Linked DNA regions of Homo sapiens: region 1 is linked to region 2. Evidence: fine-mapped expression QTL. A gene starts in region 2. The other region holds a variant in brackets. All regions are shown on one strand. Distances are between the middles of the regions. Region 1 has its middle 42 kb from the start of CAMK2D. Region 2 holds the start of CAMK2D (calcium/calmodulin dependent protein kinase II delta).

Evidence for each region.
Region 1: its variant is fine-mapped to the expression of CAMK2D in whole blood (TOPMed, PIP 0.99).

The regions. Positions count from the first base shown.
Region 1 is chr4:113,795,664-113,812,254 of GRCh38, forward strand. No RefSeq gene overlaps it. Among named protein-coding and RNA genes, the nearest start is that of CAMK2D, 42 kb to the left of the region's middle. The variant A/G (reference allele first, on the strand shown) is at 8,078.
Region 2 is chr4:113,753,980-113,770,570 of GRCh38, forward strand. It overlaps CAMK2D (calcium/calmodulin dependent protein kinase II delta), which reads right to left and starts at 7,759. Exons shown (of 21, transcript NM_001321571.2): 1 at 7,025-7,759; 2 at 5,341-5,435. The coding sequence starts at 7,089. RefSeq lists a silencer at 7,546-7,955 and enhancers at 7,949-8,487, 8,488-9,026.

The sequences.
Region 1 (16,591 bases), 42 kb after region 2:
TGCAATTCCTATTAAAATACCACTGACATTTTTCACAGAAATAGAAAAACAGTCTTACATTTTTATGGAATCACAAAAGATGCCAAGTAGCCAAAGCATTCCTTAGCAATAAATGACAAAACTAGAGGCATCACACTACCTGACTTAAAAATATACTACAAAGCGCTCTCCCTCTCCCTCTCCCGCTCCCTCTCCCGCTCCCTCTCCCTCTCACTCTCCCTCGTCTCCGTCTCCCGCTTTCCACTCTCTCCCCCTCTCCCTCGTCTCCGTCTCCCGCTTTCCATGGTCTCCCTCTGTTGCCGAGGCTGGACTGTACTGCTGCCATCTCAGCTCACTGCAACCTGCCTGCCTGATTCTCCTGCCTCAGCCTGCCGAGTGCCTGGGATTGCAGGCGCGCGCTGCCACGCCGGACTGGTTTTTGTATTTTTTGGTGGACACGGGGTTTCGCCGTGTTGGCCGGGCTGGTCTCCAGCTCCTGACCTTGAGTGATCTGCCCGCCTCGGCCTCCCGATGTCCCGGGATTGCAGACGGAGTCTCGCTCACTCAGTGCTCAATGTTGCCCAGGCTGGAGTGCAGTGGCGTGATCTCGGCTGGCTACAACCTCCACCTCCCAGCCACCTGCCTTGGCCTCCCAAAGTGCTGAGATTGCAGCCTCTGCCCAGCCGCCACCCCATCTGGGAAGTGAGGAGCGTCTCTGCCTGGCTGCCCATCATCTGGGATGTGAGGAGCCCCTCTGCCCGGCAGCCCAGTCTGGGAAGTGAGGAGCGCCTCTTCCTGGCCGTCATCCCGTCTAGGAAGTGAGGAGCCTCTTTGCCTGGCCGCCCATCATCTGGGATGTGGGGAGCGCCTCTGCCTGGCCGCCCCGTCTGGGATGTGAGGGGCGCCTCTGCCCGGCCACCCCCGTCTGGGAGGTGAGGAGCGTCTCTACCCGGCCGCCACCCCGTCTGGGAGGTGAGGAGCGCCTCTGCCCGGCGGCGACCCCATCTGGGAACTGAGGAGCGCCTCTGCCCGGCCACCACATCTGGGAAGTGAGGGGCCCCTCTGCCCAGCACCACCCCGTCTGGGAGGTGTACCCAACAGCTCATTGAGAACAGGCCATGATGACGATGGCGGTTTTGTCGAATAGAAAAGGGGGAAACGTGGGGAAAAGAAAGAGAGATCAAATTGTTACTGTGTCTGTGTAGAAAGAAGTAGACATAGGAGACTCCATTTTGTTCTGTACTAAGAAAAATTCTTCTGCCTTGGGATCCTGTTGATCTGTGACCTTACCCCCAACCCTGTGCTCTCTGAAACATGTGCTGTGTCCACTCAGGGTTAAATGGATTAAGGGCGGTGCAAGATGTGCTTTGTTAAACAGATGCTTGAAGGCAGCATGCTCGTTAAGAGTCATCACCACTCCCTAATCTCAAGTACCCAGGGACACAAACACTGCGGAAGGCCGCAGGGTCCTCTGCCTAGGAAAACCAGAGACCTTTGTTCACATGTTTATCTGCGGACCTTCTCTCCACTATTGTCCTATGACCCTGCCAAATCCCCCTCTCCGAGAAACACCCAAGAATGATCAATAAATACTAAAAAAATTAAAAATATATATATACTACAAAGCTATAGTAATCAAAACAACATGGTTTACAGTCATAAAAACAGAAACGTAGACCAATGGAACATAATGGAGAACCCAGATATACATTTATGTATTTACAGCCGACTCATTTTTTACAAAGATGCCAAGAACATACAATAGGGAAAGGACAGTCTCTTTAATAAATGATGCTGGAAAACTGGATAATCATATGCAGAAGAATGAAACTAGACCCCTATGTCTCACCACATACAAAAAATCAAATCAATATGCATTGAAGACTTAAATCTAAGACCTATCAAACTATGAAACTACTAGAAGAAATCATGGAAATCCTCCAGGATATTGTACTAGGCAAAGTTTTTTGTGTAAGACCTCAAAAGCACAGGCAACCAAAGCAAAAAATGGGCAGATGGGATTACATCAAACTAAAAATCTTATCACACACACATCAACACAGTAAAAAACCCACAGAATGCAAGAAAATATTTGCAAACTACCCATCTGAAAAAAGATTAATAACCAAAATATATAAGGAGCTCAAACAACTCAATAGTGGAAAAAAACCCAAATAATCCAATTAAACAATAGGCAAAACTTCTGAATAGACATTTCTCAAGAGAAGCCATACAAATGGCCAAGAGGTATGTGAAAAAGTGCTCAACATCTCTGATCATCAGAGAAATGCAACTCAAAACCAAAAATAAGATATCATCTCACCACAGTTAAAATACCTTTTATCAAAGATATAGGGAATAATGAATGCTGGCTAGGATGCAGAGAAAAAGGAACACATGTACACTGTTTTTGGGAATGTAAATTAGTACAGCCACTATGAAAAACACTGTAAAGTTTCCTCAGAAAAACAAAAAATAGAACTACCATTTGATTCAGCAATTTCACTTCTGGGTATATATCCAAAAGATGGGATATCAATATATTGAAGAGATATCTACACTCCCACATTTATTGAAGCACTATTTACAATAGCCAAAATATGAAATCAATCTTTAAGTGTCCATCAATGGATGAATAAAAAATGTGGCATATATACACAATGGAATATTACTCAGCTATTAAAAAGGAAAGAAATCCTGTCATTTGCAGCAACATGAATGAAACTGGAGATAATTATGTTAAGTAAGTGAAGCACAGAAAGACAAATATATTGCATGTTTTCATTTATATATGGGAGCTAAAAAAGTGGATCTCATGAAGATAGAGAGTAAATTGGTGATTACCAGAAGCCAGAAAGGGGAGGGGAGAAGGGGATGAGGAGAGGTTGACTAATGAATACAAATATATAGTTTAATAGAAGACATAAATCTAGCTTTTGATAGATTAGTAGGGTGACTGTGTTCTACAATAATCTATTGTATATTTCAAACTAGCTAGAAGAGAACAATTTAAATGTTTCTAGCATCAAGAAAATACAAGTATTTAAGGTGACTTAAGGTGATCAATTACACTGATCTAATCTTCACAAATTAAATAAATATACAAAATTATCACATGCACCCTCAAAATATTTACATCTCTTCTATATCAATGAAATAAAGAAAACAGAGTTTTTTAAAAGAAGGAAGACTGTAGAAGTTGAAGGGAAGACAGGAACAGATGTGCCAGCTGTCGAGGTTTGACTTCTTAATAGGCTTTAGTTAGAGTCTAATCTTTCCCTAGGATTCCTTTTGCAAATTAGATAAACTATACTGTGTCCAAGAAATAAACTCTACTTTGGCAAAATTCAAATAATATAACCATATTTCTTCTAAATACAAGTGTATAGCATCAGGAATTGGGTATAAATAGAATATTACTTTATCATTCAGGAAAAGAAAAGTTTAATCAGCTGTCAAAAGGTACTGAACTAAAGCTTAATGATTTATATTAGTATTTCCAGATTATATAAACTTAGCATAGGCGGGTATATAAAAAAGTTCATGGAGATGAAAAGTCTATTTGTGGTCCTAATTATTTTAAATTTGAAAATAATGAGCTACATGGAAAGTCAGAACAAAAACAAGCTTAAAAGAAAAGGAAAATGCTGGTTAGGAGGAGAGAGTTTCAGAGAATTAGATGAAATAAATTCAGAAATGTTTTGGGCCAAAATACCATCACCACTGTTGTTTGAATAACAATTTAAATGGCCTTTTCTATTGCCATTATTTATCTCTCTTTTCTCTCTATCAGGAGACAGTGATTTGTCTGAAACATGCTACTACCTTGTTTAAAAAATCTACTATTCTTCAAATTCTAACGAATTAAGTTTGAAATCCATTGCATGACATACAGTCTTACTTTTTAAGATTTATCTCCGATTTATCTCTATTTGCATATATTTAGATGTAAAATAGATCTTCCTGACTGTGCAAGGCACTTTTGCTCTCCCAGGCCTTTGGTTAGGTTATTTTCCAACGCAACAGTGCCTTTATATTCCTTTCATGGCTGGAGGAATCTTACGTATTCTTTAAGGTAAACTCAAAAGTCACTCCCTGTGAAAGGCACTAATTCAAATGGGATTTTTAAAAGTTCTCCTCATTAACCAAGGTAAAGATTTTAAAACATATAAGCTAGTATTTGTAACATACATGTAATATTTGCAAATGAAAACATGGCATGCTTGTATAGAGTTTCTCAATGCAAGAATTTAAGTCATTTAATAAATATAAAGAAAGAATTGTCTGTACCTCCAGAGTAGCTGCTATGGTAACACAAACCTAGCATCTTACAAAACAAAATAAAAAAAAACAGTGGGTGTTATGGTTTGAATGTTTGTCCCCTCCAAAACTCATGATAAAACTTAATTGCCATTGTAACTATATTAACAGTTGGGGTTACTAAGATATTAAGATCATTAAGATATTAATAGGTGATTAGGCTATAGGGCTCTACCCTCATGGGTGAGATTAATACCATTATGAAAAGACTGATTTGGCCCTTTCTTGCCCTCTCTTTGCCCTTTCACTTTATGCCATTTGATAATACAGCAAGAAGGCCCTCACGAGATGCCAGCACCTTAATATTGGACTTTCCAGCCTCCAGAACTGTTAGCCAATACATTTTTATTCATTATAAATCTCCCATTCTGTTTTTGTTTTGTTTTGTTTTGAGACAGAGTCTCGCTCTGTCGCCCAGGCTGGAGTGCAGTGGCGCAGTCTTGGCTCACTGCAAGCTCCGCCTCCCAGGTTCACGCCATTCTCTTGCCTCAGCCTCCCCAGTAGCTGGGACTACAGGCGCCTGCCACCATGCCCAGCTAATTTTTTGTATTTTTAGTAGAGACGGGGTTTCACCGTATTAGCCAGGATGGTCTTGATCTCCTGACCCCGTGATCCGCCCACCTCGGCCTCCCAAAGTGGCATCCTGTTTTATTTTGTTACAGCAGCACAAAATAGACTTAGGCAGTGGGAAAATAAAATAAAATTAAGTGTGACGATATAATCAAAGTACATATTATATTACATGCATGTAACAAAATACCCACAGACACCATAAAAATGTGCAAATATTATATATCTATAAAAATACACAAAAAACCCTGCTTAAATTCCACTGGAGGATTAACATACCAATAGCTCCTAAGAGTACATTATGCTTATCCAGATGTTTACAATGGCCAGAAATAAACTAAGGGCAACTGAAGCAATTCCTTGCTTTTGGAACTGTTAAAAAAAAATTTGCAAGATGTATTTAATTACTGACAATTTTTTTTTTTAAATGAACTCAGACAGATGCAGTTGTTCAGCTAAAGGGCTCGTTGATAGAACTGGTAAGTTATGCTTCACTCTGCTTTTAAAGATGGCTGTTAATGTGACTGATGTTTCTTGCTAACATGGTGAAATATAGTGAATCCTGATGGTTTCTTTAGCAGCTGGGTAGTAAATCTAGCAGCCAATCCAAGTTCTTATTTGTCTTGATGTTTCTTGTTTTATAGCTAGTGTAATGAAAAGCTAAGCATTCAAATAATAGGCCTGCTTACTGAGTCCACTGGCAGGTTCTGATTGGCTGGCAGACAGGCTTCCCTGTTCTAGGAAAGACATGCAAAATCCAGACCTCTTATGTTCTAGGAAAGAAAAATGTTGTTGATGACTGGCCCACAGGCCATAATTAAGAAAGAGTCTGAAGCATGATGGATATATTTTTAAAAATTTATGCTAGCATTGGAGCCATCTAATTCAAAAGTATGAAAATGAAGGCATAAAAGTAAGAGATATATTTTGTATTTGTTACCCTGGACATACCAGGCATTACATATCTGTTGCTTTCTATGAATGATTAGCCCAAAGCATGGCAAAGGAAACACTGAATGATTTATGAACTTATTGTTAGTTTTCATTTTAGATGATATTTTTCCATCAATTATGAAAATGTAAGAAGATATACAGAGCTTTATGCAGGATTATTTCCATAAAGCTTAATGGCTATGTTTTATGATTCAGAATATAAGCATCTTAATCATTGCAATAAATATTTGTAGTAGTATGCAGTTTGGCTCATTTGCTTATTTATTTTTCCTTCCCAGTTTTTTTCATCACCTTTATATTATGCTCTTAGGGACTGTATGCCTGCTAACATCCAAAGAATTCTTGAATGAATTACATACATTAAATACTATCTTTTGTCAGTGTTATTCTAGAAATTTAATTAGAAATGAAAAATATCTTCAAACAGTTTAGAAAAGTGGGTACTTATAAATAATGTTAAAAAGCCATTCTATTTTAGAAACATTGCTTAAGGAAGGAAAAAATCTATATAAAGGCATGATGAGACCACAATTCTTTGGGGGAAGATATGATGGAAAGAAACTGCAAACTGTATGTCATACCAATGGAATTAAATTGAAATGTAATAGTCAATGGTTTGATGGGAAAATAACTATGACATTAAGTTGTATAAAAAGAATGACAGCCTGAAGAAACTATGAGTTTCTATCTTTATAGTTACTACTAATCAGGTTTTATACTGAAGTCATGATTGATTTGCATTCTACAGTTGATTTGTGATAGGAAAAATTTGCAATGAAATTTAAAGAACAGTCCATTTACTGCTAATTTTGGGGGAAATTTTCTTGTGTTATACACCACAACAAAATGAATCCAGTAGTGAGATTGGAGTGGTCACCCAAAGCTGATAGAGCAGTTCATTCTTTTAAAATTTATAAGATTCCTTCTATCTCAGGTATTTCTAGTTCCTCTAGTATTTAAAAGTATAGATGTTAAGAGGATCACTTCAGCACTTCTGGAGGTCAGAGATATTACTTATCGAATTATCTTAAGCATTAAAAAATATATAGAGAGATAAAGGATCTCACTATATTGCTCAGGCTAGTCTTTAACCCTTGGATTCTAGCAATCCTCCTGCCTTGACCTTGCAAAGTGCTGGGGTTACAGGCATGAGCCACCATGCCTGGTCACTTGAAGCATTTTTAATTGAATTGTATATATTGTACAAGATCAATAAAAATTGTTCATTTATAAACTAACTAGAAATATTGAATGCTGAATGCTTGTTGAGGGTCATATAGTCTGTGGTGGATATACTCTGTATATTATTAGTAATTTATTACTGTGGAATAAATCGTCCCGACATTTAGTATCTTAACAAAACATTTATTATTTCCTGGTTTCTGTGTGTTAGGCATCTATGGGTGGCTTACCTGGGTGCCTCTGCCATAAAGTCTTTAACAAGACTGTAATCGAGATGGCAGACAGGGCAGTGTTCTCATCTGAAGGCTTGACTGGAGGAGATTCAATTTCAAGTTCGTTTGTGTGACTGTTGGCAGGACTCAGTCCTCCATAGGCTTTTGGACTAAGGTCTCAATTCCTCACTGGCTGGTGGCTGGTAGCCTCCTTCAGTTCACAGCCACATGAATTTCTCCATAGGGCAGTTCATAAGAGAGTGGCTGCTTTCCTCAGAATGAGTGAATGGGCAGCAACACAGGGCATCAAGATGGAAGCTACAGTCTCTTTTTAACATAACCTTGAAAGTAACAATCATTTCTGCATATGCTGTTAGTTAGAAGTGAGTTACTAATTCCAGCCTGCACTCAAGAGAAGGGTATTACACAAAGTCATGAATAGCAGAAGGTGGGGATCACTGGGGGTTATCTTAGAGGTTGCTCACCATGTGCCCAGTTATACGTGAAGAAATACTCAGAGTTTTAGTAACATTTTTAAGCAAAATGAGTAGTACATTTAGGAACTGGAGTCAAAATTGTTATCTTATTGATTTCAAAGTCCAGAGTATTTACATTGCAATACATTGCACTCCTATGGTAATAAAAAAATAAGTTTAAATGATCTGAGGAAGCACTGGAACAAGTCAAAGAATCAATATTAATAAGATTTTTTTTCAAAATGAGCTAGGTTGTACTTTAAGAGGTCATCCCAAACATGAATGTACTATTTGTATTTGTAGATTAGAAAAAAGCAAATGTAGAAGGATGACAGGATTGTGTAGATAAATATTTCATATAAATCCTACCCATAAATACTAGAA[A/G]TTAATACATAAATTTTGTTTGTTCAAAAAATTTAAAAAATTAAATGAATTTAAATTTCCAGCAACAAATATTTAGAAAATAAGAGTACAACATTATTCAGAGTGGCATAAGAAATCAAACACCTATCATGAAATATGAAATGCCTATGATCAGCAAACTACCAACTTCAAGAGGACAATCATAAGAGGAGTGATATACCATGCTCATAGTTTCAACGACTATATTGTAAAAAAGCTAATTCTTCTTAAATTGTTTTATAGCAAAACAATTAAATTGATTCCAAATCAATTAAATTGTTCGAATTGATACAATTCATTCCAAATCTTAATTTGAATGCTTTTTGAGTGTGTGTGTATGTTTGTGCAAATTGATCATCAACTGTTATAAAATTTACATGGAAATGAAAAGGTCCCAGAATGGCCAAGATTACCTGGAAGAAGGATAATAATTTGGAGGATTTACATTTAATGTGAAGATCATAAACCTACAATGTGGTATTGGTGCAAGGTTAGCCAAGTAAACCAAAGGTACAAGTCTAAAAAACAGACCAACACACACATAGTCACTTGATTTTTAATGATGGTAGTGCTTCAGGGCAATGAAGAAAATGGTACTGGGTTATGGTACCATTTTCAGTAAATGGTACTGGGTTAATTGGATATTCATATGAAACAAAGTGAATCACAGCATACACAAACATTAGTTTGTAATCTAAATGTGAATTTTAATGCAATAATCTTTTAGAGGAAAGCTTAGGAAGAAATTTCACGAATTTGAATTTGAGATCGGCAAAGATTTCTCTAAAGCAACACCATGGAAAGATGGTTAAATTGGACCACAAAAAATTTAAACCTTCTGTTAATCAAAAGACACCACTAGGAAGTGAAAAGACAAAGTGGAGGCAATATTTACAACATTTACAACGGACAGGAAACAGGTATCCAGAATCTGTAATGAACTTCTTACAAATGAATAAGAAAAGACAGGCCAATAAAAAAAATAGGCCGGGGAAATGAACAGGTACTTCATAAGACGATATCCTAGTGGCAAATAAATAGATAAAAAAGGTAGATTAACCTCATTGGTAATCAGAAAAATCAAAACAACACACCTAAAGAATGATTAAAATTAAACAAAATTAGACTGACAATCTTAAGCATTGGCTTATTAGTCCATTCTCACACTGTTATAAAGAAATGCCTGAAACTGGGTAATTTATGAAGAAAAGAGGTTTAATTGGCTCACGGTTCCACGGGCTGTACAGAAAGCATGGCTGGGGAGGCCTCAGGAAACTTACAATCATGGCAGAAAGTGAAGCTGGCACATCTTACATGGCCCCAGCCAGAAGAAAGAGAGTGAAGGAGGAGGTGCTACACACTTTTAAACAACTAGATCTTGTGAGAACTCACTATCATGAGAACAGTGAGGGAAAAATCTGTCCCCATAATCCAGTCATCTCCCACTAGTTCCCTCCTCCAACATTAAGTTTCACAATTCAACATGAGATTTGGGTGGGGACCCAAATCCAAACCATATCAATTGGCAATAATGTAAACTCATAGGATTGTACTTTAGTGAAATCACTTTTGAAGACTCTTTGGGCATTATTTACTAATGGTGAACACATGTTTACCAATGACCCAGAAATCCTAGGTTTACAACGAGCAGAAATGGAACATATGTGCACCAAAATAAATACATTAAGATGTCCATAGCAGTATAATTTTAATAGCCCAAAACTGGAAACAATTCAAATGTCTACCAAAGTAAAATGGGAAAATAAATATGCTACAGCAATGAAAAAAGATTAAACTACTGCTACTCAAAACAACACATTACCCTACAAACATAATCCTGAGTGGCAGAAGCCAGACATAAAATAATATATTCTGTATGATTTTATTTATACAGCTCAAAAAGAGGTAAGAATAAATCTCTGGTGTTGGAAATCAGGATAGCAATACACCTTGACGAGGAGGAAAGGGGGATTCTGGGATTTTGGAGTTGGTCTATTTCTTGATCCTGATGGTGGTTACATGGCTATTTACACTTTGTGATAATTCATTGAGCTGTATATTTATTTGAAAATATTAACACTTATTTAAAAATATTTAAAAGTCTGATTAATGGAATTGGATATGTATTTTTTAAATCTAAAATGTTAAAGGTCCAAAAATTAAATGGAGTGAATATTATAAAATGAATTTTAGGTTACACAAGCTTTTATTGACAATTATATAGATCTGAGCTCTGAGAACAAACTTCTTAATAAATTTACCAATGCAAATATATGGATGGGGCATGGAAATGATTACAATGACTAGAACAGTATAATATCTTTTGTGCAGAAGTAATAGGTGATTATAAGAAGATGTTATTATAAAAAAATAATTTATAGGCAAAAAACTAGGTGCTGGTGATGTTTCATTACATTTTAAATATCTCAGAAAATAAAAATTTTAAATTAGAATACCAGATAATTATAATTCAGGAACCTGATTTTATAGCATCTCTACAACTCTCTCTTCCTATATGAAAATTTATAATCTGGTTTAACTGAAGAATAAAACTATATAATGGCCAGCAATTTAAGACTCCTATTTGCATAGGGCGTTTTATCTGAACAAAGATGACAAGACTATGTATGTAATTATTAGGATCTGGAGAGCATCCTAAGAATAAGGACAGACCCAACTCTGTTCCTGATATAGGGTCTGAGATGGCAGCAATGAAAACCTGCTCTGTTGCAGCTATCTTAAGTCTAGTTAAGCACAGAATAAAGGAGCCAGTCAATTCATTTGCATTTTATTGTCAAATGTCAATATTTCTTTTATGTGTGACATAATTAAGAAGGGAGTGTGTATCTTCTATATGTTTTATTTACTGTGATTATACCTAATGCATTAGAGTAAGTGATCAATCAGATGTATGACACCTATATCCACACTGTCTTAAAAGAATTAAAAGTCCATGTCAACATCAATAACTAGTATTGTGTTAATTAGATGAATGGGAGGTAGTGGACTACAAGTCTGACACTTGGCCTGTAATCTTGACCATTGTCTAACTGTGTCCACAGGGACAGATCAATTGACATCTGTAAATCTAATTTTTCTCAGTATAAAACAAGGGTATTAGGCTCATTTAAAGAAATGTTTTCATCTGCTCTATAAAGCTATGTGACAGCTGATAATAGGTTTTTACTACCAAAAAGGAAAAAAATTACATAGTCTGTCACTGCCTCACAGCTTTCTAGATCACTGTAAGAAAAATAGAAAGAACATTGAAATATTGGACCTGAAGTCAGGAAATAGAAAATGAATCTCAGTTCTATTCTTACTAGCTTTGAGATGATGAGAAAGTCACCACACTTCTTTAAGCTTTAATTTTGTTCTCTTTAAAACTTTTACCTCTAAAAGCACTCACTTCAGAGCAGGATCCCAAAAATTGTTAACTCAATCTCAATACAACATATTTACAAGTGAAAAAATGTATTCTTTTGTATTTCCCCCCCTAGAAGGTTTTTGAGGAAATTTACATCATCCTTACCAGCTTTTCTACTCTTTACTAGCTTAATTTATCATTATGGATAAGAATTAGATTCTACCTCTCTTTGATTTAAGTCTCTAAATCTTCACATTTTCAAATTTGGTGAATATTTCTGGTATCTAACTTTTCCCCTCATGTTATAGCATATTCAGTGAGATGCATCATTTTAGGTTACCCATTTTTCCCCTGTAGCAAACTCAGGACTACTATTGCATGCAATTTGTATAATATAAGCTTTGATACATGCAATGTTCATTTTTTTAAAAAATCTCTAACTAAAAGCATGTTAAAGTAAATTAACTAGCAGAAACTTACTACAAATGTGCTGGAAGCCAGGATTGCAGCAAGGAAGTTGATGGAATTGTTCCTTTGGTTTAGGATATTGGCTGCTCTGCGGACAAATCACAATTTCTGTCTCTCATTTAAATTCTTGTGAGATAATCTGATTGGTGTCACTCAGCCAATAGACTGGATGCCCTTCAGTCAGAGTCCAACACTGGAATAAAAGCTGAGATCTGGGTGGTGGAGTAAGTGACAGAAATAAGGCTGTATGAGATGCCCAGGAATAGTTGGATGGGACGGTACCTAGAAAAAGGGGCCATGAATAGGAGTATATTCTCTGAGGAAGGAGTTCAGCAAGTTATCATGTCTTTATGTGCCCACTGTCATGCAGTGCAACATGAAGTTGAAATGTGTTTATAGTTTACCCAAAGCTAAAAATACAAGGATGCTAAAAATGATAATTGTAGACTATTTGTGATGTCTGGATTGCAAATTTCAACTCTGACTACATATGTTTTAGAGTTTAGATAGCAAATTATTTCTTACTGTAATGATTCTATGTTCTGCCATACATGTGCCATTAATGATTATATCTTCCACATTTATTTCATTTCATCATGTAAGAAATTGGACACATATACATAAATTTCTAAGTTAAAATTTATCTGAGACTTTAAGGTCTTCTGTCTTTTTTCATAGGATTTATTAATTTTGAAGAAAGCATAAAGTACTTCAAATTTAAAAGGACATGGCTAAAAAACTAAATGAACTATATGTATCTGAATTATTTCTTAAACCAAAGGCCAATTTAAAGTGATAGTCTAAGTTGAATATATTACTTGCATTTATAATTTTACCAGTATTCATATATATGTGCATCTAGTATCTGTTTGATTTTGAAATATAGGGAAATAAAATGAAATTGATTTTTTTAAGTGTGTAATAATATGCCACTCCAAAATAAGCCACTTTGGCGTGAGGATTATTTTGAGCTAAAGGCACCTAAAAAACAGCAAGTACAAGAAGGTCACTCTGACCTCCCCTTTTTTTTCCCTAAAAGCAGGAGACAGAACTCCCATATAGAAGATATTCTCATCATTCTAGAAAGAAAATAACATTCTCATTAGCAGAGATGGGGACTCAGAGTTGAGAAAAATCTGTACAAACAAACCTTGTTAAACTAACCCTTATCTTCCTAGTTCCCTTTTCACCATTAACTACCCTAGCCCAAGTCCTTCATCTTGTCACATTTTCGTAATTTACTACTCAGTGTCCAATTCAATATAGAAGCATTCAACTCTAACTCCTTCTTTGGGTCTTTATTTCCACATGATGGCTTCCATGTCATGTAAAACTAAAATTTATACTCAGTAAATGTGTATACTTTTCTCCTGTTATCTATCTTATGTCAATTAATTCTCAGGCCCAGCTGAAAACCCTAAAAAGGTAGAGATAAAATTTTTGCCTTCACTAAACTGTTTTTCTAAGGATGGTTGTGTAAAAAAATTTTTTTAAAATTATATGTGTGTATGTATATATATATATGTATCTCCACAGTTTATCACCAAAATGTTGGCTTCCATTATCCAATTTAGACGTGACCTAAATAACTCCAATCAAAAGAGCAAAAAAAAAAAAACAAAAAAAAAAAACAAAAAAACCCCTTCTCAAAGAAAAAAAAAAACTAAAAAAAAACTTTTCTCATAGCTACCAGCTAACAATGATGGCAACATTTTGCCTCCTGTGTTGCCCTTTAAAAGGGCAATAGAAAAAGGCGTTAGAGTGAAGGAAGAAAGCTTGCTGCTGAAAGACAGGAATGCTGCTTACTGTAAGCCTGGACAGCCCTAGTTTTCTCCATTCCGGGTCATGCTCTGAAGTGGGGCTGATGGCGAAATGTCACATCACCAGAGTACCCGCCTAGGGGAAGTACACCATGCTCATCACCCCATCAGAAACTTGGCCATTCCCCAAACTAGCATAATCTTAGTGAGGCATTTCCTGGGCACAAAAGTGTCTCATCTGCCACACCAAATTTGCAGATGCAATTTTTCCCCGTGTTTCCCTTGAAAAGAGAGTAGTAGTTATGAAAGCCACCAAGAAGCATAACATTCCAGGGAATATATATTTTTTCACTCAAGTGCTTTGAAAAAAGGTCTTAAGGTGGGTGAATTTAGGAAAAACTATTATATGTCAGAATAAATTATTACATGAATCAGAACTCAGAGCATAGTGTCCGAATTACTACTGTTAGGTATAATTGTTACAGATTCCAAGTTTAAAAATACATTCTAATTTATTCCTTTAAAAAATTTTTTTTACATAATTCTTTGTGACTCTTTTTTGAGAAAAAAGAAAAGATCTTTTCTGCCTTTAGAGTAATACATAACAGAAAACCTTTTGATAGTTTTGAGAAATGGTAAGCATAATATCCAAATTACAGCAGTTCTCATTATAATGGCACTGAATAATCACCTCATTAGTAGTGATTATCTTGATATTAACAGCAGTTCCCGACCTACAGATTTTTTTTGGCAAATGTTTAGTATGATTTGCAACAATGTGCAAACATTTTTTACTATATATTTTTTTACTTCTCAGTATTGAAGGAATTAGTTGGATGAAGATTTATGAGATATTGGATAATGTGAAATGTATTGACTGTCAGGAATCTTGTTTCAAGGAACTGCACTCCTTAGGAGTATGTGTGTGTGAGTGTGTGTGTGTGTATGCGTGTTTGTGTGTGTGTGTGTGTGTATCTTTCTTCATCATTTATTTTCTTGCATTATTATATTCTGAATCAAATTGCATTCTGGAAATGAATACTAGCATTAGGAGAAGCATTGCATTTTGATGGTGAATGATTTTGCAGAAATTATACACGGTTGATGGTAACTCTGTCAGTATTGTTGAAGTGTTTTCCTATATTTAAAATTTTAAGTTAGCAAATATTGAGAGTCAGAAATTCCTTATCCTCCCATTTTCCACTGTGTGTTTGTTTAAAACCCTCACTTCAATAATCCAAATTTCCCTTTGTTCATTGCCATGAAAGGAATAACTTGATGAACAAAATGAGCCAACATTTTGTCGACTAAAGACATTTTTCCCTTTTTGTGTGCCATCATTTTTCTTAATTTAAATAACAAAGCCATTTAACTGGATACTTTTTAAAATTGAGAGATAAAAAGCACTATTTATTAGCTTTAAAAAGTATTGCTTAATTCTTTATCCTCGTCTAACAAAAGATGGCTCTTTTGCCTTGGTCAATATTTTAACACACTTCTTTATTATGTTATTATTTGTGATCTGAATTAAGTAAGAAATTTGCAAGAAGAAAAAACCTCAGAGGTTAAAATATTTGATTGTTGCGTTTTGAACACATTTTAAACATGCTAGTTGTTAGAAGCAAAAATCAAGAATCAAACCTTTATTCTTTGAAAACTACTTAAAATAAAATGTTTTTATGAGTCAAATTAGTACTTTGGAAAGGACTCTGGAATGCTTACATCATACATAAACCACAGAGTCATCGCCACATTGGTTGAAATGAATACTTATTGTGTGGAAAGTGTTTTGGAACAAATGTGTTAGAAAAATGCATTTCAGGGAGATAGCTGGCAAAGCAACTTAGTGTTATATAATCAGGACTTCTCCTTAAATGCTTTTTTATTCTACCTATTCTATTATATAAAATCTAAAAATGTCTCTTTGAAGAACCAATTCATTATATTTCCTTTTATACTTCTTTTGGATATAAGATGACAAGAATATCAAAGTTCTTGAAAATAGGGAACATCTCAAACATAGCTCTTTAGGTGGTTTCACTAAAGATTAGGTAACATTCTGCCAACTTCAGAAACCCATCTGATTTAGAAAATCATCCCATGGCAGAGTAGTCTGTATTCATGATGACAGAATTCTCTGAGCTTCCCTTTCACACCTTCTGCTTCCTAGTTTCTTGTGACATTTTTTTGAGGAAACCTAGCAAGAATAAAGTTCAACATAGGAAATCTAAATGATGAATCATATGATGCCTTTTAGAAAAGAACCAATAGTTCCTTCTAGAGGAAGACTATGACCAGGCTATTTGCAAACAGGGTGTCATAGACTGTTTGCTTTCTTTCATCTCAATGATACAAGAAATATGAATAAATGCTGGTGATATTTCAGGAACAATTAGCAAACACTAAACTGTTTAAGTGTTACATGTAAGCAAGGAAGAGATCACAATGCCAGAGGAGATCCCACAAGATCAATGCTTTCTAGATGCTTTTATATTTAACAAACTGTGTGGAAAGCAGCATTAGAACATTGAAGCCTATCTGTTATATACATTTATAAATTAAGTTGAATCGTAGTTCTATTGATGCAGACAATTTGTCAGCATTTAAAAATTAAGACTTTTGGTACACTAGTAATAAAAACACAACTTGTGCTCTGAAGTGAAAAGTTACAACATTCAATCATTGATTTTCTGCCTCTTGTTGGAATGAGACTGACTGAAGTCTGAACAATGCTGCAATTGAAACATCAGTTCTCACAAAATACATCCCGTTTCTCCCAGGGATGAGCATGTCGCTCCAGGTCTGGGTTTTCTTACTTTTTTTTCAATGCTTAAATATTCCTCTGTCAATTAAAGGATGGATATGTGCTCAAGTAGGCAAGTAGGCATGGCAAAATTGCAT
Region 2 (16,591 bases):
AGGTAGATAGCCTTTATTTTTCCTAACACTGTCCACTGAAATCATTTAATATTTATTAAATAAACACATAAAGACATGTGAATATGCTTAATGATCTATAAAGTGATTTGAAATATAAAGATATGTTTTACAGTTAAAATATTGCTAATACTCCATTTAATGCATTGCAGTGTAGTTTACTAGAAATACTATTGTAACTTAAAATCTTTAACACAGCCTCTATATAATCATTAATTGCCAATGATTTATTAAAACACTGCATACATTACACCCTAATAAATGGGGAAGACTGATGTTAAAAAATATACCAATCCAGCCCTAGAAATACTATGAGTCAACCTCAGTATAAGCCCAAGGAAGACTTTAAAAATAAATTAAAATTCTAGTTAACAAAAAAGTTAGATGCCCAAGAAAAGCCCAGTACATGTAAGATTTCTAGTAATTCGTGATTATTACCATTAAAAAGATCCATAAAAGGTGACATATTGCTAAATTTTAATTTTTATATTCAGTTTATTCAACATTTCAATGGAAATGAGAAGTATTAATCTAATTGTCTAAACAAAGTTCTCACACAATCAGGTAGAGGTTTACACTAGTTATTAATATCACAGTATGGCACCTGACAACCACTTTCTTTATTTTCTTCATTTAATGAAATACAGAAAAGAATTCTATTATTTCCTGGAAGTGTGGATATACTTTTTTTTTTTATTATTTGTGTCTCCTAACTAGTTCTGAAGAGCAGTAATGCTTTCATTCAATGAAAGAAGAAAATGAATGTTTAATATCAAGACCTATAGAAGAATGTAAATACAACTAAACGTAAGTAAAGGATACAAAATAATAAGGATGACACATGCCACTTCTGGGTCCATAACTGAAGAGTTGTGGAGATTCTATGTACAAATATAAAAATGATTTACTAATTTTTTTCTTAAAATGTTGTTCTTGCCAAGAAACCTTCAAATTTTAATTTGTCCAAATTGTTCCAATTTGCCAAATCAATAATGTATAATCAGAACTTAATCCATCTACATAGTCTCAGTTCTACTTCCAATTCAAGACAAGTAACCATGAAGTTGAGAAATTACAGTACTTTCTTGACTGCCTGGAAGCCAAAAATAAAAGAAAAGTAGCAAGAATTAGTTTTTAACATCCCTTTTACAACATCAAAAAAGGTTACTTAGGGATACACACACACACACACACACACACACACACACACAAAACATTTAGATTTTATAGATGAGGCCTAATTTTGCATACATGGTCAAGTAGTTTTATAAAGTCCTGATTCATGTACTACTAATATCACCAATTTAGGAATTAATAAAACTAGTAAAATCAAAGAATATCAAAATGACTTAACTGATTAAGCCTGAAGTTTTACAGAAATATAAAATGAAATCCCTTTTAACTTTAGCAATGGAGTAGAGGTAAAATACAGTTGTAATAACTTATTTTTTAACCCTATACTATAATGTATTATATTTTACAAAAACAGTGACTGTGACACATCAGAATCTATGTAATAGTCAAATGGTTTCTAACGATCAAGAAATACACTGGGAGATGAATGTCAAGAAGCCATTACTTCCACATAAAATATTTTACCACCACGAGGCTTTGAAATGCAAAATAAATCACAGGTACTATTTCTAAATTATCTGCCATCAGAACCATCAGTCCACTGGATTCTGAACTGCAGTCACAGCTCTTCTTGGACTTTATATAATTTGACAACAGTGTACAGTTCTAAACATGTATAAATAAACAGAATATCAAAGCAGCAGAAAAAAATTGGCTTTTGTTAAGTACTAATCTAACTGTGCTTGGGATTAAAATGGCGTAATTTCTAATTCTCATGAAAATATAAGGCAAAAATTCTATTATCACTATTCAACATTTACTAAGCATGCCCTCAATGCCCATCTAACAAAAACTTTTTAGAAGATAGAAATTACATATAAAATATAAGATGCTTGAGATGCTTCCATACTACTTATTTTCAAAATAAGCCAAATTATATATGAGTGTACCCATCTACATGCTCAGTATAATGAATGTTCTATGCACGCACATGCTAACACAAAAGGTAAGAAATTCTTCAATTGACTCAGAGTTCCCCAAATATGGTATGTATGACTAACAGCTGAGAGGAAATACAACTGAAACTGTCTGCTGGAAATCCATTAAAATCTAGGCACAGAAAAATGCCTGGTTGATAGTATAGTTGGATGTGCAAATTTATGCAGGAATGTAGCCAAATCTTTGGCAATTCCCTCATGGTCTTAGATTTATTAACAATAGCCCTTTCTTTTTCAGCTGTAATGTTACATTTAAAGAACATTAGTGGAGTTGGAGGACCTGCCTGGTCTTTAAAACAAATAGACTAAAGGCTTGGGTATACAGAGTCATGGAATTTCAAATACAAACAAAAATTTGCACAAAAAAAGTATGCTCCACAAAAGCTTCCATATGCAACTCTCAAAAATCAGTACCTTAGAAAAAACAAGCATACTATTTTGCAATTCTTTCTACATTTGCCTTTGAACGTATTCATTATTTTAAAAATTTTTCTGCAAAAATGATTTGTATCATCTTCTCTGAAATGAGTGTTATTAAAAGACTTCATAGGTTAAGACATATCCTCTTAATATACTACTTCACGGATTTATTTTCAGTATTTGCTTGTTGTTAGGAGTAAATTAAGTACTTAACTCTTACAAGTCATTTAACAACCACATTTGATTCTTGTTACTCTGTACTGAGCCCCTTCTATGCTCTCAATTCTGTGGAATGTTGTATCAAAAAATGAAAGCATGGTATTTTCTTCTTCAAGAGTTTATAATTCAATATGAGTACAAGTTAAACAAACGTATTCATTCAAAGGCACAAATATTCTACAACCAGTTCTGATTAGTGTGACAATATAAAATAAAATTGTTGACCATTTTGAAGGAAAAGTTCTGTAATTTTTCAGGAGAACAATAATAAGAGGTAAAATTGACACAATACTTTGCAGTTTAAGAAATGATTCTCATTGAATTCCCTGAATCCTCAGAACACCCCATGAGACTCCATGAGTATGATTTCCCATTTTACTGATGAAGAACCTGATATCCAGAAAAGGAAAGAGACTAAACGAAATTTATGCCTAAGTAGTAGAGCAAAGATTCAAACGTAGTTCTCACAGCTAAATCAAGGCTGCCACTGGATTTATAAGTTCTTTCATAAAAGTAATCTAATTTGATCATTATGACAATTTTATTAGATAATAATAGCAGATAATATTCATTGACTGCATATAGTGGGGCAGGTGCTGTTCTATGCTATGTTAATTCATTCATTCCACACAAAACCCTATGAGGAAGGGTTCTGTTATTACTGCTATTTTACAGATGAAGAAACTGAGGCTCAGAGAAACTAGTTAATGTGCTCAAGATCACACAGCCAGTAGGTATGGGCAGCAGAAGTTAAACTCAAGAGCTTCTGGTTGCAGCGTTAATAATGTTCTTCACCACCAGCTCACTCTTAGGTACGTTAACCTACAACAGGTTAAGAAACTTGCCCAAAGTCACAAGGAAAAAAAATTGCAGAAAACGGGCAAGAAGAATGTCTCCTAACTCTTCACCCTAGTTCCTTTTTCTAAGTAGAATAATGAAAATCATTACATCCAGAAGCGGTAAAAAGCTTTGGGACATGTAGGTAGTTCTTTGAAGCAGAATATGAGCAAGTAAGGAAACACTGGTGGAGTAGCAAGGAGAAAAGATTCCATCAGGCCAAAGAAGGCTTCTTCTCCACAGATTGAAGGGAAAAGAGAGTAAAATGTATGTGACCAGGGATAAGTACATTTGTTATTCTGATTTAGGGAGGACAAATTCAGATGAGTGAAGAGGGATGGCTCTAATTAAGAAAGTTAGTAAAAGTGAAGCACTACACTGATTTGTTTTGAAAGAAACACCACCAAAAATCTTGGAATAGGTATTGTAATGCTTTCAAAAGAAATGATACCCCCACCACAGCCAAAAGTATCTAGCACACAGAAGAAAATAAGAGAAGCACTGAAAGATTCTAACTACACATTTTCATTTTTTTAAATTAAAATGTCACTTATAGTTTAGCAATTCCTTTTCATTGTTAAAACCTTTCTGTGGAGTAGAGACTAAGAGAACATAATTAACATAATATTCTTCTCATTAGTTTTCATACCATGATTCTATGGTGCTGGTTACTTTATAGATCTTTCTCAGAATCATGTCAAAATCAGATGAAGGAAATTAAAACAACAACCCATGTGAATGGATAAACTAAAATACCAACCTAAACCTAAAATGCATGTTAAAAGTAGAATTTGCAATAAATATGGAAAAACTAATCATGGCAGAGACCGAAAGCAATGATGCCAGGATTTTGGTAAGAAGCACTTTTGAAAAGACATATTAAATGAGGAAAACTAAACCTAATGGAATTTCTTCTCTCATTACTTAAAATAAACCAGGTCACTGAGATGAGCGTACACTATGGTATTTTGTTCATTTTCATTTCATTTTTATACCATAAATTCCCATGGAAATACCTCAGACACGTGCCCACAATAATTGGAATGCCTAACATTTCAGCGTAAGTACTTTTGCATGAGTTCTACTAAATAAAAAGAATGCAGTGAGAGCCCTCCAAGTTTTTTGGTTATGTCAACAGCTATTTTACGAGTATGAATTATCTCTGTACCTATAAACTACATGTGTAAAATACATTACATGAGTCTGTGTGAAGCCTTAATGCGAAGACCAAGGTCTGAGCTGCACACAGAAACATCAAAATAAAACTAAACTTCCTAGAATATAGCAATCATAAATTTTCTTACCAAAGCTATTACTGTTAAATATACCTTGATGAATTAAGTTCAAGTGTAACTACAATTGAAATGTATGATTCAACTGAGCTATGACCTACTTCCCTCTCAAAAGCAAAAGGGAATTATGACAGTTGTGAGACTTATATTTTTCCATTCCATGGTCTAAAAGTTGTTTTATACTTAAACTATAAGCAAAATGCACCTGACATTTATTTGCTTTAAAATATAGTTATTCATGCTATTGCTCATAGGACAGATAGAATTTTAATAGCAATGTATCAAATAATAATTATATCTTTCCATGTATTTTTAAGCTGTACAGACCAAGAAGCATTCAGGAAGAAAATAATCTTAATATATAATATGATACCTAAGTCTAAAGTTCAGTTATAACTACATGATATATTTACATACAACAGAACCTATAATCAACATGACAAATACAAAATTAACCAATATATGTGGTTGAAAATACCCACCCCTAGCAGAAAGCTTTTTGGTGTTGATAATTTTGGCAGCATATTCTTGTCCAGTAGGAATTTTCATACATCTTCTCACCACTGAGAATGCCCCCCTGGAAACCAATAATTAGCAGGTCATTAATATAACAGATATAATATTTCATTAAAAATTTATAAAATCTGAGCATTTTTATTGATTTTAGTGGATTGCCAGTGAAGTACAGTAATATCCAGTAAATGAACAATTCTTCCTGGAAACCCAGACTTTCTTTAATGTTGAAGAATAAAAGTAAATTTTATTTAACTGGGAGCACACATTATTAATCAACAAAATGAAAGGAACTGCCAATTATGACCGCTCTTGTTTGCACAAGAAATTTGAAAACATTTTACAGTTCACACTCACAGCACCAAATGCTCTGAGAAAAACCCTGCACAGAACAGAGCAGACGAGGAGCAGCAAAAAAATCTGCTGCCTACTTATTTTGGTAGGAAACAAAAAATTAATGTGGTTCCAAGTAAGTAAACATGACGATTATTTTCATTAAAATATAAATCTTGAGCACATTAGTGTGGTTTAACAAATCCTGGTATGGTGATTTCTCTATGCCTTGTTTTGGACTGGGGGAGGGGAGAGATTTGAATTAAGCTGCTCTTCCGACATATTCTCCATGTTTTAACACCAGACAATATATACATATGTAATTTTTATTACTTTTAAAAATATTTACCTTTCCTTTAATTACAGTATAAACCAACAACATACATATAAACGCACTCCTTTCATAAAAGTAACAGTCGAAACTAGTGAAAGAGGAATTGGGTTTGGGTTCCATGCTACAAAAATCAGCATTCACGGCTTGGCCCCTAGGTCCCTTTGCATAAGTCCTCAGTAGGTCTCCTGCCTCCTTCCCTAACATCTCCAAGTAGTTCTGCCAGTCGGGTGAAGGAGGTGGTTTTACACAATGCTAGGCTACGCTTAAGAGCGCTCTCAGTCTCCAGAGGGCTTTTCCGTTGCCTGTATAAATAAATCCTCCCAGAGAACGCAAAGATGCACACGTAAATCCTAGGAAGAATGATGGTGAGCGGTAATCTGGTGCAAAGAACAACACTGGATATAGGGCAAGGGGTTGGGTTCTGTTGGGTGGCCCTTTTCCTGGACAGAACAACTACTGGATGCGAAATAGACTCTATGCCAAGTTGAACTTTCGGCATCAATAAATATGGCACCGTCTGAGGCTGTGAGTTCTCATCAGTACCTGGGTCATACGGCCGACACGCCGGCTAACCAGGAGGCATCTCTATTTACAGAAAACATGATCTATGTTGCATTTTACATGGGTTCTAATTTCCTCTCCAAACACACATTACACACAGGCGCGCGCGCACACTTCTCAGGATGATAGCTACAACTGCAGAGATCGTAAATTCACTAAGTCTCTCAGTGCAGGAGGGTGGGGGACCGGGAGAAGGTGGGCTAGGGACCATCAAAATGAGCCACAGTTGGAGTAAGGGTCCTACCCCTTCTGTGCTCCCTCCCTTTATTAAGACAGCACCTTCCCCAGAGCTGACAAACCAGGGGCCCTCCTCCCATTCCTCTCCCAAACTCCCTCGCCCCAAGACGGAGGCCGGTGGGTCGGGGGCAACGCGACCCGCCCTCAGCTGGAAAGGGGATATGCGGATGCCGGGCAAAGGTGCTTACTTTCCAAGCTCCTCGAAAAGCTGATACTCGTCCGTGAACCTGGTGCAGGTTGTGGTCGAAGCCATCCTCGGTCCGGGCTGTGCCCTGGCTGGGAGCGCGACGGACCAGAAGCGAGCAGACGCGCGGCTAACCCCGGGACTGGCCCCGCGGCGCTGTCACCCAGGGCCGCTCTTACTTTCCTGGTCCGAAAGTAGCTCGCCCGCGAGGGAGTGTGCGCAGGGGCGGGGCGGGAGGGGAGATGACCAGAAAGGGTGGCGTGGGGTCTCCTCCCCACAGTCCGCCGATCCTCCTCCTCCTGCGGGCCTCGCTTCCTTCTTCTCCACTGGACGCTCCACCCGCCCCTTTTCCAGTCCCTGTCCCCAAATGCAGGGGGTAAAGTACTCAAGAAGAGGGGGCCGGGAAATGGAAAAACAGCCAGGCACGGGACGAGTGGCAAGCAGTTGCGAAACGATCCGCACTGGAGCAGGAGGAGTAGAAGCAGAGGGGAGGGAGTCCGAGGGGGCGGAGGTGGAGTGCAGCGGGGCCGAGGCCGCGGAGCCCAGAGCGGACAGCCTGAGCCCAGCGGCCGCTGTCAGCAGGCTCAGGCGCGGGGCGCGCCGGGGCTCCGACGAGCGTGCGCGCCCGAGGCCGGCTTCCCTCCGGCGGGCGGCAGCGGCTCCGGCGAAGCGAGGCACCTTGGCGGCCTCGCGCTGCTCACGAGCCCGCGCGGCTTCAAGACGGCGCGGCGAGAGAAAGAGCGCTCGGCTCAGGCGAAGCCTCTTCTGCCGTCCCCAGGCCTCCGTCTCCTCCTCCGGCGCCTCCTCCCGCCGCTCCCTCCGCCTGCCAGCACCCCCTCCCTGGCGAAGCCCCCTCCTCGCTGGTCCCACACCTCCCTCTAGCGACTCCAAGCCTGTCCCTTCGTGGATCTCTCGCACTCCCTCCTTTGGTTGCACACACGAGCACACCAGTCTAGGGAGAAACCAGGTGGGTGGAGGAGGATGTGCGGGGGAGAAGACTGGAGGTTTGGGTGAATGAGGCGAGAAGTCACAGTTACCCATTTAAACCCGCACAGAGAAGGCTGCCTCAATCTGGGGCTGACTGAGCGGGAAGATGCAGGGCAACTCGAGGATGGCCCGGGGCAGCCGCCCTGGGTCGCGGAAGCCCACGCCCCTGTTTTGGGCGCCGGGCAGCAGGGACTTCTCCAGGCCGGTTCCCGGGCCACGACACCCGGTGGGCCGAGCAAGGGAGAGCAACCACTTCATCTCCACGCCGCTCAGAGTTGACACAGCAGGGGCCGGATGTGGGCTGTTCACTGCTCTCAGAGAAGGGTCCCAACCCTTCCCACAGCCACCAGCGACTGTCGGGGCAAAACCCAGCCTCAGCAGGGTTCACTGCGTCGCCAGCTCCCCAGAACCGGGCGCAGGTTTTCTCCCTCCCCCGCAGCCCCTTCTGCAAGGGGCAATGACGGCCCCTGAGCCACATTACACTTGCCACCTCCAGGCCCACCTCCCCCGCTGTTTTCCAGGATGGTGGCTGAGACTCTGGCAATCCCCAAAGGCCTTTGCTTTGGCTGTGAACGTTAAAAGAATGAAAGCAAAAACTCCGCCGCACAACCACACCTTCCCTTCCCTTCTGAGTAACTCCCCTGCAACCTCAGTAAGTTCTGATAGTAAGGCGAATTCTCGCGATATTTCCCACTCTGGCGGTCAGGGGGAGGTAGTAGGAAGGCTGGGTGTCGGTCACGCGACCCGGCGGGGGCTGACGTCATTCACATCACGTGAACACGTCTAGACTGTTTCGCTTTGCAAAGGGAAAAAAGAAAAGGGGCCGTCGTGTGTGCTTTTGCTTTCAGCCAGATAGTGGCAATTGAGTGCACTCCGTAAATGGCTATCTGGAAAAACCATTTAGCAGTTCAAGAATGTGTCCTTCCCTTTAGCATATCTGCCATTGTTTTCAGTAGGAGGAAAAAAAAAGTATGCATTACGATTTAAAATAGATAAACTGCTGCCGATTGCTAGAACAACTTCTGGGCCCTCTTTCCAGTTCTCCTTAATGAAACTATGCAATTGCAAATTTAGCCGCAGACCAAAAACAGCGTTATGGACGGTCTTTTTCAAATTACTGCCAATTGTTCTACAGCACGGGACTATAAAAACCTTGCAATCCTATTGCTAATTTGCTCGTGGTATTACTTCATAGACAAAATTTCACAGCTGAAAGATAAAAGATAATTTGCAGACACAAGAGAATCTAAGATTTAAAGGCGCTGCTGCTTGCTCCCAAAGACTGCTATTAATTAATGTTACTTTGTGGTCATAGATAATCCTAATTCCTTTTTTCCTGATCTGGGGAACGCTTCTGCCAATGAGTGAGCTTTTTACTGAAGTACTAAAAATGTTCACAAATTTTAACGTTTATTACAACAAAATTGAAGTTCGTATGTGTTTTGATTCCCAGCCGTAAAAGGCAAGAAATAACTGTGTAAAATGTAGTGCTATAGAAAAAGATGATACCAAGAACTGCATAAAAGAAACATGGTCTCTAAATATTAATAATTGGGCTATAAATTGAAAAAAAAAACACAATTTGGTCTTGGCTAAAGATTTGTAATATCTGAACTATTTAGCAATGTGGCTCCAAGGTGATAATGAAATAATTTAATATTTTTCCCTGAATCTAAGAATGAAACAGAAAAAGTAAAATTAAAACAATAAAGGTAATATAAAAATTTACATCTGGGAAGAAAATTGTTTCTTAAATATTCAAGTAATGAAGTCTACATAATTACAGTATTTATCTCAGTTATTTAAACTACCAATAATTGTAAATGGTTATAATTGTGGAGTACAATAAAGGAAACATAACTGAGTTTTAATACTGATGTATTATTAGACAATAAATGTGTACATTTTTTACAGCAAACACTGCTTAATCTGTACGTACCCTTTCTTTGATTTATATTTTAGACTAAATATTTCTCTTATTTGAACAAATATTTACAGTTATTTCTGAAGTTTGAACCTCCTTAAAAAGTAGTCAGATTAGCCGGGCGCAGTGGCTCACGCCTGTAATCTCAGCACTTTGGGAGGCCGAGGCGGGTGGATCATCTGAGGTCAGGGGTTCGAAACCATCCTGGCCAACATGGCAAAACCCCGTCTCTAATAAAAATACAAGATTAGTCGGGCATGGTGGCATATGCTTGTAATCCCAGCCACTTTGGAGGGTGAGGCAGGAGAATCGCTTGAACCTGGGAGAAGGAGGGAGGTTGCAGTGACCCGAATTCGCGCCACTGCACTCCAGCCTGGGCAACAAGAGCAAAACTCTGTCTGAAAAAAAAAAAATAGTCAGATCAAAGACTTTGTTGTTGTTGTTCTACTTCAACATCATTTCAGGAATAGCTACAAAATAGAGATAAATTCTAAAAAGTGTAGAAATGTAGACCTATAAACATAATAACACTGGATGTTAGTGCCAAATGTATTTACATTTCATTATACATGCCTTACTAACTGCATGTCTGATGAACATGGTAGAGAAAGTTAAGAGGGAGAGTTAGTGAATAAAAAGTTAGTCATTAAAGTTGTTGAAGATAATAAGGCAGGCTTTATTCAAGGGGGTCCATGGTGATCAGAACCACTGCAACCAGGTCTTGCAGGAGGAGAGAGAGATTGGACTCTATTTCAACTCTTAAAAGGCCAAGTGGGGATTTACAAGCAAGGAGCAGGGTAGAGGGCTGTGGATATAAAATGACTAAGTATTCTCCCTCTTTCCTCTTTGGCAACTTGGAATTTAAAAAAATCCAAGACTTCAGTAGTTTCACCCAGAAAGTACAAGTTTCTAATGCTTACATTAACAAAGGCAGATATTAACAGATACTAACATTCATTGATTTCCTCTGCTACAAAGTTATAAGATAAGAAACAGCGAAGAGATAATGTTATCTCTATAGCTCCCCAAAGTGCAGAGTCCATCAGTAAATAGCAGATTCCTGTGAAAATTTTAGCAGGTGCTGTGTTGAAGCCACTCTTCACTGCAGATTTGGAGGCTAGGGGAAAAAAGTAACAGCAAGTTGCTGCCTTTCCAAACTATGATAACTAAACCATATAGAGCCAGACAGTCTACTGATGAGCAGATAATCTGTTTACCAGACCATCCATTAGTGCAAGATGAATTTGCAGTTAAAAAACAAACTATTCATAAAAGCAAAGCTAACAACAGAAGATATTTTCTTTGTTTCATCATGTGCTGAAAGAATCTTTTTCCTAAAAATAAAAATAAATGTGCAAATAAATAAGAAAACAAGTGATATCCATACAATGAAGAAATGTCTCTTTTGCATTACTTGCAAGTACATTGGTCAGCATGCTTGACCCTCCATGAACATACATGTTTCCCTGACACTCTGCTAAAAGAATTGCAGTAGGAAGGTACATTAAATAAGATGTATAATACACAATAATTGTATAAAAGGTTATAGAGTCATTAATAAAGAAAATAACAGATTTTGACTCTTCTGTGTACCTCTAATGATTTTCATTGACTTTCAACTTTGCAAACACTTATTACACTGGACTGTAATTAGACTGTCAGACCCTTCCTGGCAGGGACTGTCATTCAGTCCCCCCACTGTATCACTAGCACAGGGTTTTTGCCACAACAGGTGCTCAAAAATACCTTTTTTTTAAAAAAAAAAAAAAACAATATTATGGTATTAACAGTCTTGACTTTCCAAATATTAAAAATGCCCAATCTTTAATAGGGTATAATGAGGCCCCTTTGTTGCAATATTTAGTTGATTCTTTGTAATCCTGAAGTAACTTGACTTCTCTGTATAATTTCATACTCTTGACCTGAAATTCTCTCTGTTGGTTTTCATGTCTGATACCACACTTTCTATTCACAATACCTCACCCATTCCACAACATTTCTGCCTCTTTTCTTCAGTATCATTCCTGGTCTCTTTTTTCTCTGCCTCTGTGGTAAGTGATAGTGCTTTCAACCTAGGATTCCATCTTAGGTTGCCTTTTTTTCTCATTTTACACAGCTTTCCTAGGCTGCCTTCATAGCTATCACTGTGTTAATTATCATATGTCTTAAATTTGACTCTCCAGATGTAGACCCTAAGACAAGAATGTATGGAAAAGGGATTTATTGAGGTAGTATTTCCAGGGACAAGGATAATGTTAAAGAAAAAAATCTCATTCAATGATACTTGCTGAAGTATAGTAAGACAGATTTTATTCAGACTATCACAGTAGGTATAGTTACCACTGCAAGGGGGTTTTGCAGTAGGGGAAAGAGATTGGGCTGAACTTCAAATGCAAAAAAAAAAAAAAAGGAAAAGTGGGAATTTATATCTAAGGAGTGGGAGTGGAGGAAGGTAGATGAATGGAAAATTACTAAAAGGAAACTTCTGAGGTAAGGGGATAGTCTGGCTAAACCTACCTAACAAGATTCTTACTGAAGGCAGGCTGGAAGATTCTGGATAAACAAACTTAGCAGGATTCTTAATAAAATTGGGCTGATGCAAACATTTGACATGGAAATTCAAACGTCGAGGGTAGGAAAGAGGATTGAGAGAAGCCTAACTAAAATTTGGTGAAGGAGAGACTCTTTGTCAGTAGAGAATTGGAGAACATGGGACAAAAACAATGCAAAAACAAAAAGCAGCATGTGCCTTCAAGTAAAGTCCCAGCATCAGCCTTATTTTCAGGGAGCTCTGGAGTATATGTTATACCCAGTTTTGTTACCCTCAAAGCAAGGGCTTTCCTATTTCTTCACCAGTCATTCATTGATCACTAGCAATGGAAGAGGGAAACAAACGGACATAAACTCCCTTGGGGTCAGGGTCTGGCCGTCCTTCCTGGCGGGTTGAACAGCTCCAGTGGCTCCAGAGTATGCCACTGAGGAAAAAGTCACAGGTAGAGGCTATTACAAGAAAAGACTGCAGAAGTGGGGTATGCACACAGAACTAGGGCATGGGCACAGAACTGGGATTCCAGAGAACGGAGAGTGGAAGCACCAACAGAATCAGCTGGATACTAAAGTGCTAATGACCCTGCAATCTCTGTCTGTAGCAAAGGTCTTTTTCTGAGCTTCAGACTCATATTGCCCGCTCCCTACAGGAAACTTCCTCCTGGACATTGCACCTCTGACTCAACATGTCTAAAATTAATATGTCTTCCTTCTACATCTGCACCTCCTCCATATCTCAGTGAAATTTCAGGGTCATCCCACAATCAATCACAAGTCCATATACATCATAACATTCCTACTGCAAATGCCTTAGTTTAGGCCACCATCGTTTCTCACTTGGATTCAGAGGAATTCATACTAAACAAATCTATCATGTCTCTTCTCAGTATAGATATCATTATTAGCTCCCCATATATCTTTAGGAAAAAAGTTCAAAAAGTCTTTAGTACACCCTACCAGGCATTTCAAACTACTCACTGCTTAGTTTCATACTCATTCCTTGTACCCACACATACCCTAACTCCTAAACATTTCTAGAATTATCTTGCATTTCTCATTACCAGCATTCTAGATCAAACTATTGTCTTCTCTAACCAGTTTGCGGAAACAACCTCTTAACTGCATTAATAATTGTGCTTTCTTCCCTCTCCTACACACAGCTGAGAGAAACATCTTTTGAAAATAAATTTGATCCCATCATTCCTTTGCTAAAATGTTTCAGGTATGCCTCCAGTGATCTTGAAATAAAGACCAAAATCTATCAAGGTTTAAAAAGCCTTACATGATCCTCCAATATTGTTATACTTACTATGATTAGTATTTTAACCTGTCTGAAAATTTTTGAATGGTTTGAGGCAGGCAGGTATCTACTTTCATTTTCTTTTCCCCTCAAATGGATAGCTAGTTTTGCCAATGCATTAACTGAATAGTCCATCTGTCCATCTTTATCCTTTCCCACTTGTTTGAAAGACCTTTTTTTTTTTTTTTTTTTTTGGAGACGGGGTCTCACTCTGCTTCCTAGGCGCTGGAGTGCAGTGGTGCGATCTCAGCTCACTGCAACCTCCACCTCCTGGATTCAAGCAATTCTCGTGCCTCAGTCTCCTGAGTAGCTGGAACTACAGGCATGCACCACTATGTCCAACTTTTTGTATTTCAGTAGAGACAGGCTTTCACCATGTTGCCCAGGCCGGTCTCAAACTCCTGAGCTCAGGCAATCTTTGGCCTCCCAAAGTGCACGGATTACAGGCGTGAGCTACTGTGCCTGGCCTGAAAGACCTTTAAAAAAAATCATATATTCATTTACATTGGATTATTTCATTACTCTTCATTACGTTCAGTTTATCACTTTGTCAATTCCTTTAACAGTACTCTTCTCTTGATTCATGTAGCTTTAGAGGAGGGTAGCATTTATCTCAACAATCTTGGTGTTTAAAAGTTAACTTTTCCTAAAAGCCAATGGCTTAGCCTTTAAATTACCTTGGTCAAAAGTCGAAAATTATTTTTTCATCATGTAGGGGCCAATACCAAGGATTCACTACATGCTATGTAGCGGGTAGCTAATACAAACTATAATCAAAATAGACTTTAGAATATATTTTTAATCTATTATCACCAAACCTACAGAATTATAGTACTCTGTCTCATTTACGTAATGAGATGTCCAGCCAATTTATTATTATTATTATTATTGAGATGGAGTCTCACTCTCTCCTGGAGTGCAATGGCACGATCTTGGCTCACTACAACCTCCAAGTCCCAGGTTCAAGCGATTCTTCTGCCTCAGCCTCCCGAGTAGCTGGGATTACAGGCGCCCACCACTACCCTCGGCTACATTTTGTATTTTTAGTAGAGATGGGGTTTCACCACGTTGGCCAGGCTGGTCTTGAACTCCTGACATCAGGTGATTCGCCAGCCTCGAGCCTCCCAAAGTGCTGGGATTACAGGCGTGAGCCACCTCGACCAGTGCTAATTTATTATTATTCAGGTGCTACTTATTCATTTCCTACATAGTCAAGGGCCCTGTTATTTCTTATTCTCCTGCTTTTTTGTTTCCTAGAGTTGGCTTAGACTTGTTGATTCATTCCTTCAAAAAGCAGAAAGAAGTTTTAAAAATCTGTTTGCCTAATGACTTAACACATGTGGCTAAACCTAACCACCAAGGTCTGTTCCATCTTACTACACAAACAAGGTTTGGGCTGAATACATAGCTAGAATACCAGATTTTCCTGTTTTGAGATTAATTTTTTGGCAAAGAAATGGAGCAAAAGTGATATATGCCGCTTCCAGACCTGGTTCATGTTCTGGAATGTTCTCTAATGTTCTTCAGTCTCTGAACGACTGGGATGGCAATTCCTAGGGCAATCTTATAAGTATCATATTGAAGATTGCAGAACCACTGTCAGCCTGGGGCCCTGAAAGACTTCATACAACAGAGCTGCTGCTAATATGGAACCCTTGCCCTGACCAAAGAAATAAACTTCCTGTTCTTTAAGGAACCGAATTTTGAGGATTCTATTTGTTTCTGTAATTTATCCTCCCCTATCTAAAACAAAGTATGGAAACAAATTTTTAAAATCAAAAGCGCTATACAAATATTTATTGTAATTTAAACCTTAAGAATAAAATTACGATTAAATGAAAATATGTGATTTGCATTAAGGCCATATTTTATTTTTGTCTATTGTGCCTGTGTCCATGAGTGTGGTAATTGAGAGTTAGCTGTGTTGTAGAATGGCCCAACTCCAACCAGAACAAGTATCTTTATAGTTAAATAATTAAAAAAAAAAACACTACATTCTTGTTCCTATTTTCCCCGCCTTCTTCCCCCACTTCCCCCACACATGATTTCCATTCAATGAGGAAAACAGATTTTTAAAGGTTCTGAAAGTTATGACAATACCACTGAAAAAGGTGATGCATCTTTATCCTTAAAGCTCTCCCATTTTTAATGTTTTTCTGTTTCATTTATCAGTGGTTAAAAAAAAAAAAGAGCCTCAATTAGTAACTCGTATGTGAACAACACCTCTTTTTCACAACTGCTTGGTTTGTTTAACAAGGAAAAAGTGCTATCAACTTAAGAGTGAAAAGGTGTTTTTGAAGGTAGAGGTAATTATGGTGGGTTGTCAAACAACATAGTAATAGAAAACAAAATGAAGGACCCCTACAGCTTAAATATGAAGACTGTTGTAATTAATTTTGCAACATTTATTCTATAAGTTGGTGTGTGTGTGTGTGTGTGTGTGTGTGTGTGTTAGACCAGGTGCTCTGAGAATATAATGTGGAAAAAATAGTGTCTCCACTTTTATAGGGTTTATTTTTCAGTGGGACAAATAGGCATTAAACCAATTACTCATTAAAAAATTAAGTAATATAAAGGAAGAATACGGAGAATGTGTATTATTTGTCTTGGTGGAGTAGGCACAGGTTTTTCTGAGAATGTATGAGCAAAATGAGATCCAAAGGATCCTATTATTTTGTTTATAATAGTTAAATAGTTAATATTAATAACTAAATTAAAGAGAAAGTACAGGGAAAAGCATTCTAGTAGATGAAACAGGACAAATTCAAGGAACCAAGTGGGTCTGATGTGGTAAGAGTGTAGTAAGGGAAATG